Regions from separate parts of the Homo sapiens genome. Here region 1 is linked to region 2. Evidence: fine-mapped expression QTL. A gene starts in region 2. The other region holds a variant in brackets. All regions are shown on one strand. Distances are between the middles of the regions. Region 1 has its middle 2.2 kb from the start of SAA2-SAA4. Region 2 holds the start of LDHA (lactate dehydrogenase A).

The links. PIP is the estimated chance that this variant, and not a neighbour inherited with it, causes the effect.
Region 1: its variant is the best candidate, but not a certain one, in a credible set for the expression of LDHA in whole blood (TOPMed, PIP 0.82).

Annotation. Positions count from the first base shown.
Region 1 is chr11:18,248,683-18,253,013 of GRCh38, reverse strand. No RefSeq gene overlaps it. Among named protein-coding and RNA genes, the nearest start is that of SAA2-SAA4, 2.2 kb to the right of the region's middle. The variant G/T (reference allele first, on the strand shown) is at 2,110.
Region 2 is chr11:18,392,434-18,396,786 of GRCh38, reverse strand. It overlaps LDHA (lactate dehydrogenase A), which reads right to left and starts at 2,224. Exons shown (of 8, transcript NM_005566.4): 1 at 2,151-2,224. RefSeq lists enhancers at 363-864, 2,129-2,218, 1,599-2,264, 2,529-2,618, 2,265-2,929 and a silencer at 1,319-1,368.

The DNA.
Region 1 (4,331 bases), 140 kb after region 2:
TAAAAATGCAAAAATTAGCCGGGCATGGGGGCAGGCACCTGTAATCCCAGCTACTCGGGAGGCTGAGGCACGAGAATCGCTTGAACCTGGGAGGCAGAGGTTGCAGTAAGCAGAGATCGCGCCACTGCATTCCAGCCTGGGCAACAAAAACAGACTCGGTCTCAAAAAAAGGAAAAGATATATATACATATATAAAGATAAATATATATATATGTGTGTGTGTATATATCTAAACACTACAGCTCTTACTTTTTTAATTGACTTAACTTTTCATTGACTTAACTTCTCTTTTTTTTTTTTTGAGATGGAGTTTCGCTCTTGTGGCCCAGGCTGGAGTGCAATGGTGCAATCTTGGCTCACCGCAACCTCCACCGCCCGGGTTCAAGCAATTCTCCTGCCTCAGCCTCCTAAGTATCTGGGATTACAGGCATATGCCACCACACCCAGCTAATTTTGCATTTTTAGTAGAGACGGGTTTTCTCTATGTTGGTCCGGCTGGTCTTGAACTCCCAACCTCAGGTGATCCACCTGCTTCAGCCCGGCAAAGTGCTGGGATTACAGGCGTGAGCCACCGCACCCAGCTGACTTAATTTTCATAGATAACTTATTCATCATAAAGAATTAATTTATTGGCTGGGTGTGGTGGCTCACAACTGTAATTCTAGCACTTTGGGAGGCCAAGGCAGGCGGATTGCTTGAGCCCAGGAGTTCCAGACCAACCTGAGCAAAATATTTATTTTTTGTGTTTATTTACAATAAATACAAAAAGTTATCTAGGCCCAGTGGTGTGCACCTGTAGTCCCAGCTACTCGGGGGGCTGAGGTGGGAGGTTCACCTGATGCCGGAGAGGTTGAGGTTTCAGTGAGCTGAGATTGTATCACTGCACTGCAGCCTGGGTGACAGAGCCAGACTTTGTCTTAAAAAGAAAGAAAGAAAGAAAGAAAGAAAGAGAGAGAGAGAGAGACAGAGAGAGAGAGAGGGGGGGAGAGAGAAAGAGAGAGAGAAAGAAAGAAAGAAAGAAAGAAAGAAAGAAAGAAAGGAAGGAAGGAAGGAAGGAAGGAAGGAAGGAAATAAATAAATAAATAAATAAATAAATAAATAAAGAAAGAAAGAAAGAAAGAAAGAAAGAATTTGTTGCCTTCCTGATAAAAATTCCAGTGGGAAATTTTGATTCACATTGCATTTAATTTATAAATAAATTTGGGAGAATTGGTATCTTTGCTAAGCTAAAATATAATCTCTGTGGACATGACGTACATTGCCACTGTTTATCCTTTAACAGACTAAATTTTCTCTGTAAGAGGTTATTTCCTAGATAGTTAATATTTTTGGTACTACTTTGTGCTGTATTTTATAACTATTAAGGAATGTTGCAGAGAAATGCTATCAATTGTTAAAATTTTGCCATGAATACAGCAGCCTCACTGAATTCTCTTAGTAGTTCTAATAGCTTGCCATTTGATTCTAACAGGTTTTCTATGTAAAAGATGGTGTCATCTTCAAACAATGATAGTTTCATTTCTTCTCTTTCACCTCTTACCTTCCTTGTGTTTCTTTAGCATTGGGCAGGTCCTTCAGGGATATGTGAAACAGTGGCAGTAACAACCAGACATCCTGGCCTCTTTGTTTTTTTTTCCATGATGAAGTCTCACTCCGTTGCCCAGGCTGGAGTGCAGTGGCACGATCTCGGCTCACTGCAGCCTCCACCTCCCGGCTTCAAGTGATTCTCCTGCCTCAACCCCCCAAGTACTTGGGATTACAGGTACCTGCCACTACACCCGACTAATTTTTGTACTTTTAGTAGAGACAGGGTTTCACCATGTTGGCCAGGCTGGTTGAGAATTCCTGACCTCCAGTGATCCACCTGCCTCGTCCTCTCTAAGTTCTTGGATTACAAGTGTGAGCCACCACGCCTGCCATTGTGGCCTCTTTATTGGTCTTCTTGAGAATGCACCTGAAGTGTCTTAATTACACATAATGTTTGCTGTAGAGCAATGATTCTCAAACCTTTTGGTCTCAGGATCCCATTACACTATTAAAAATTATTGAATACCCCAAAGAACTTTTATTTATGGGGACTCTATTCATCAGTATTTACCATAATAGAAA[G/T]AAAAAATTTAAACATTTATCAATTCTTCAAAAAATTATCCATCTTCTATATGTTAACATAAATAATATATTTTTATGAAAAATAACCATCTTCCAAAAGAAAAAAAGTAAGAAGAGTACTATGGTTTTACCCTTTTGAAAATTTTTCATGTCTGATTTTTTTTTCATAGCTGGATTTTCCTATCTGATTCATCATCCAACCTGTTTTAATATGTTATTTAGGTTGGAGTATATGAAGAAAATTCAGCCTCACACAGATATATAGTTGAAATGGGGGAGTGTATTTTAATGGTATTTTTAGATAATTGTGGCTATTCTATATTATACCAAACTCAACAAGTGGTAGCTTCTGAAAAGTCAGTTACCATGTGGAAATCCACACTCATATCAACTAACTTGTCATATTGTGTGTACTCATGAGAAAATGAGACTGAAACATGAAAATAGTGTGTTAGCACTATTCTAAAAATAATTTTGAGATCAAAGCCTCCCTAAGGAGGGATTCTTAGGGTTCCCTGGAAAACAGTTTGAGAACTGTTGCTATAACATATTGGTATTTATCCTTTCTCAAGTCAGAAATGGTCTCTTTATTTTGTTATACATTTTCCTTATCATCAGTAGATGTTGACAATTATGAAATTCATTTTCTGCATCTAGTAAAATAAATGTACAATCCTTTTCTTTGATTACTGGTATAGTGAATTACAAAGATAGATTTTTCTGATATGAAACTCTTCTTGACTCCCTGGAATAAGCCCTGGTTAATCACGATGTGCTATTATTTTCACCTGATCTGTGCTGTACCATGTACAGCATGATGTACTATTACTGCTACCCAGTTGGAAACATTCAGCCTCTCTCTGTGAGCTCTTTTTCCCTGGGGATGTCAACTACCCTGCCTAAAATATGTGTGACTGTGTGTGTGGACCCATTCCAGCAGGTACCACTCTCAGTGGTTTTAAGGTGGCAAGATGTAGTGGGGGAGGTGGAGGTGTCAATGCATAGGTCTCAGAACAGAGTCTATAATATCATTGTTCACATTGGAGCCACGCATTTGCTGCTTATGGAGTATTTGGCCATCCTTTACTTCCTGGCCCTACCCATTTCTCAGAGATTAAAAAAAATTTTTTAAGATAATCTTGCTGTGTTGCCCAGGCTGGCCTCAAATTTCTGGGTTCAAGCAGGCCTCCTGCCTTGGCCTCCCAAGTAGCTGGGACTATAGGCACATGCCACCATGCCTGGCCCATTTCTAAATTGCTTGTTTGTTTGTTATTACAAATGCCTAGCCCTCAGGGTATGAACATGGACTGGAGAAGAAGAAACCAGAGTTGCTGCTATGTCCACCAGCCTCTCTGCATGTCCTGGCCTCAGCCCCCCTGGGCTCTGGTACTGACCCATCTCTGGCCACCATGCTCCTCCATAAGCCTCTGCAGAGCTAATCTGACCCTGTTGATGTTCTCATGAGAGAGTGATCTGCATGCCCCCTGCACCCCTCCGTGATAATACAGCAGACCAAGAGCTCTCCCACCCTTCCCTGCCTGGATGCTGGGCACGTCCCCAGCTGGGCTGCCTATTTAACGCACCACACTCTCATTCTCCCAAGGTGGGGCTCCAGGACTAGGCTGGGGCAGCAGAAAGTCCCCCTCTCTACATTGTCCTTGGCTCAGGAGCCAACTTAGAAAAAGCATTTCCAAATTGGCTAAGCCAGCGGAGCAGAGATTTTCTGTGCTGAGAAATATCAGGACATCCAGAGGGGTGGAAGGAGGCTTCCAGGGCACACATGAGATGTGGCAGGGGTAGGCTGTCCGTTTTAAAGCTTAAAGCTTTAGACATGAACTCACAGGGATTTCAGTCAGGGTCATCTGCCATGTGGCCCAGCAGGGCCCATCCTGAGGAAATGACCGGTATAGTCAGGAGCTGGCTGAAGAGCTGCCCTCACTCCACACCTTCCAGCAGCCCAGGTGCCGCCATCACGGGGCTCCCACTGGCATCTCTGCAGCTGCACTTCCCCCAATGCTGAGGAGCAGAGCTGATCTAGCACCCTGTCCATTGCCAAGGCACAGCAAACCTCTCTTGTTCCCATAGGTTACACAACTGGGATAAATGACCCGGGATGAAGAAACCACCGGCATCCAGGAACTTGTCTTAGACCAGTTTGTAGGGGAAATGACCTGCAGGGACTTTCCCCAGGGACCACATCCAGCTTTTCTTCCCTCCCAAGA
Region 2 (4,353 bases):
GCTTCTTTAATGTTTATTAACCAAGAGATTTTTTTAAGCTATTTTACTTCCTTTGGGGGTATTTGCCACTATAAATCACTAGAGATGACTAAAAAGGGAGGGGAAAAAACCTAATGGTTGCCAAAAGAGAGTTGAAAGGCCTAATGACAGGGTCTGTGAAGAGTGAAGGCCCATACCTTAGCGTGGAAAAGGAATATCGACGTTTGGGTGTAAGTATAGCCTCCTGAGGGTTCACCCATCGCGGTTTATTAACCCCAAGTGGGGCTGGCCTTTCCTCAGACAAGATCACTCTGAGCTACTCCGGCTCCTACAGCAAGGACACAGCCAGGCTTCTCAAGTAAACACCAGAGATACGTGCAGAAAAGCCATTAACTGCCACAAAGCTCAAGCCCAAGGCACAGGAGCCTGCGGTGATCCGCGCGCATGCGCGCTTTGTGGCTCTCCTTCCCGCTCGGAAAGGTGGGCGGAAATCAGACTAATTGCTGGGTCCTCCGAACGCCCGGCTTTTACGCCCCGCCCAAGTCCGGAAGATGGGCGGGCCCAGGAACTTGTGCGCGTGCGCATGCGCATTACAGCGCGCAGGGCGAAGCCGATTAGTCTAGCGGCCTCCGGCCGTTGGGAAGCGGGCATCGGGCCAGAAGGCAGAAGGCTGAGAAGCCCCGCCCGTAAGCAGAGGCAATCTGGAGCTATGCAGCTCAGTGGGTGAGAGGGAGGGAGCTGGGATTCAGACTTCAGACCTAATGAATGCCCCGAAGCAGACGCCAGCAACGTGAAGCCTAGCTGGCAGCCTCCCAGGTCTGGCGCGCAGCCAGCGCCAGACTTTAAATCGCAATACTAGAAACCAGGGCCTGTTAACCAACCGGGAGGGAGGCGCACGGTGTGGCTTCGGCCGTGATCCTTGTTGCAAAGGCCTGTCAGGCCCAGTATGAAGAAATAGTTTCAGTACAGGGAGTGTAGAAATAGCTGCAGAAGGCCTGAGGCCTGCAGCCCTAGAGTTAATAGCTACTTGGTGGAACCCTCGAATTCTTTCCACCTTGTTAATCCAACCCTGCACTGCATTCGCTGGAGGAAATATCACAGGCTGCATCCCCAAAGTATCACGTCTAGTTTTGACACCACTCCAAAGGGCAAAAATCCGAGAGGACCTCTAGGCAGGCAGTCAGCCCAGAGTCACCAAGCTGGAGCCGGGTCTCTCCTTACAAATCACTGCTATTTCTAGACAGCCTTGTAAGGTTTCTAGCCTGGCAGGGGGAAGGGAGTTCCTGCGGACACCTGCTAGCTTCACTGAACGGCCCCGGGATCCAATGCTACCTTTAATGTAGGGGCGGAGGTGGGAGGGCATGGGATGAGGGAAGGGTGCGTCTAGAGGCGAGAGACATGCAAAAACGAGTTCTACACCTCACCTCTGCCTCCTACTCACTGGGAACTTAGAGATCCCTGACTGTCTCCTAGCTTTCGGTCTCCCTATTTGTTAAAAGGAGGAGTTGGTACCGGCGGATCCTACTCAACTGACCGTCTGAGGTGCGGAAGGGCTGGGATGCTGCCTGCTTCATCTTTGCATGCGCCGTGCCTAGCGCAGCCCGAGATACACCAGTAGCTTCTTAATAAATGCGCAAAGGGCTCCCTATAATCTGCAGGCAGCAGCTGCCCTCACGGAGCCCACCTCTCGAGCGTCCCAAGAGAAAAATGCAAGCCGCGTGGTACTCAGCCGCTTTCCGTCTTTCAAGAACCCGCCCCGGACAAGCTGAGGCTTTTTTGGCTCTATGGGCTCCGAGAACTGGACCTCGAGTTTTGCACCGCCCGCCGATTTCGAGCCCAGAGGTATCCCCCACCCTTAAGGCCTATCATATCCTTGTTCCGCATCCACCCGGGCTTTCGACCCCTGCTTGGGTGCGGCCACCTCCTCGGTTCCCCAGCGTGGCCAGAAGCCATGGTTCCCGCTTAGAGCAAAAGCAGAGCGCGGCGAGCTCCGAACACATGCGTTGTGTGGGCCGCCGCCCAGACGTCTCTGGGCTGTGCTTCTGGAAAGCGGCTCCTACACCTCCCGGGAGCAGGAATCCCTTCGCGAGCAGCGGAGGCCAGCAGAACCAGAGGCAGTTGGCTCTACCCGCCCATCCCTCTGGCGCCGTGCGCGCAGGGCCCTACCGTACCGGGAATGCACGTCGGGCGGTCGTCGGGGGCGCGTGGCAATGAGATCCGGAATCGGCGGCAGCGGCTGCAGCACTCTGAGCTGGGCGCGGGAGGGGCCTTAAGTGGAACAGCTATGCTGACGTCAGCGGGGGGGGCCGGCGGACGTGCGGGAACCCACGTGTGAGTCGGGCTGGGGGTGGATGCCGAGCCAGGCGGGGCACTGGAGAGGCCCGGGTGGCGCGCGCAGCCAGACAACCGACCGGCAGACTGCTCCACGTGCGCTGGGAGTCTAAGTAAGGTGCTGCCCTCCAACCACAGAAGCCGGGGTCGGAGCCATGAGCCTGAGTCAGGACGACCTTCAGTTTCCTCATCCATGAAACCTGGGGAGGTTACTCTCAGGAAGGCTTGGATCTGTTTCTTCTTCATCCCTGTTTCTCAGTGTCCAGAACAGCTTCTGGCACGTAATAGGCACTCCACAAATATTTGTTGAACGAAAGGAAGAAAATGCCTAGCAGTCAGTCAGTCTGTTCTTACCTAAGTCGAGTGACCTCCAAAACTCGACGCTGCTTTTCCCTCTGCTGCTAAGCCTACCAGCTCCCACTCACAGTGAAGCCTTGGCCTCTCAGGCCTTGCAGGGTGACTCAGTTCAAATGTACATTTTATTCTGCACTTTCTACTGCCCACCCCACTGGCATCTCATCTCGAGTCTCAACCATACCCAAGAACTGTCAGTGGCTTGTTTTTTTGGTTTTGGTTTTTTGTTTGTTTATTTGTTTTTTGGTATTTTTCGAGACAGGGTCTCACTCTGTCACCCAGGCTGGAGGGCAGTGGCGTGATCATGGCTTCCTGCAGCCTCGACCTTCTGGCTCAAGCGATCCTCCCACCTCGGCTCCCCGAAGTGACTGGGACTACAAGCGCGCCCACTTGCCCTGCGATTTTTTTTTTAATTATTAATTTTTTTTTTTTTGAAACGGAGTCGCTCTGTCGCCCAGGCTGGAGTGCAGTGGGCTGATCTCGGCTCACTGCAACCTCCGCCTCCCGGGTTCAAGCGAATCTCCTGCCTCAGCCTCCTGAGAAGATGGGATTACAGCCAGGCGCCACCACGCCCGGCTAATTTTTGTAATTTTTAGTAGAGACGGGGTTTCACCATGTTGGTCAGGCTGATCTCAAACTCCTGGCCTCAAGTGATCTGGCCGCCTCGGCCTCACAAAGAGCTGGGATTACAGGCGTGAGCCACCGTGCCCAGCTCAATTTTTTGTTTTCTTATCATACTTACCTCTGGGCCTGTATTCTTGCTGATTCCATTGCCTAGCCCGCCCTCCTCCATCTCTTCTTTAATTTGTACCAATACTTCCCCACTGTGGGGTATATTATGAAATATATTTGGTAAGCCCTTGAGTATGCCAAAATTTCCTGAATTTTCTGATAGGAATGTCTTTTGTTATTTATAAAGAGCCTTTTTCCCTGACTTAATGTTAATGAATGAGGAGTCTTAGATAGCCTCAGGAAGGAGCCAGTCATGGGAAAGACCAAATGATTAGGGAATTAGAGGGCTGGAACTTTCAGCCCAAAGGGGTGGATGGCTTTACTTACTCCCTGAACCTACAGCAGCAGCCCAGTGCAGCTTTGAGATAGATCCATAACTGAGTTTCTTGGTTTTGACGGAAAACTCTAACCTCAGCTCCAAAATAGCACAAGGGGCCAGGTGCAGTGACTCATGCCTGTAATCCCAGCACCAATGTGGTTGAGGTGGGAGGACTGCTTGAGGCCAGGAGTTCGAGACTAGCCTGGGCAGCATAGTGAGACCCTGTCTCAAAAAAAAAAAAAAAATAGCAGGGCATGCTTGCATGTTCTAACAGTTTTCCCATCACTCTAGATTCTAAGATCACTCTAGGTTCTGAAATGGGGCTCTCACCTCAAACACACAGCTGGAAAGTTTAGGGGTGGGCCACTGATTCTTCAGAGTACCTCAGGGCAGGGCAGATTGCCACAGTGTTTTCCGGTTTCTCAGTCTTTGCAACAGTGTTCTCAGTCAGGGCTGGGCCCCTGCCTGCCTACCAAATGTGACCACTGCTGCTGGGAAGAGGTGTGCAGAAGGCAGAGAGCTGAAGTTGGCTGGGGAGACGAAGAATTTTCACCTGAAAGGCTTGGGTTGGGGCACTCTGAGATGACCTGTGAAGATAAACTAGGTAGAGTCTTCATTCCCCTAATTTATGATACCTA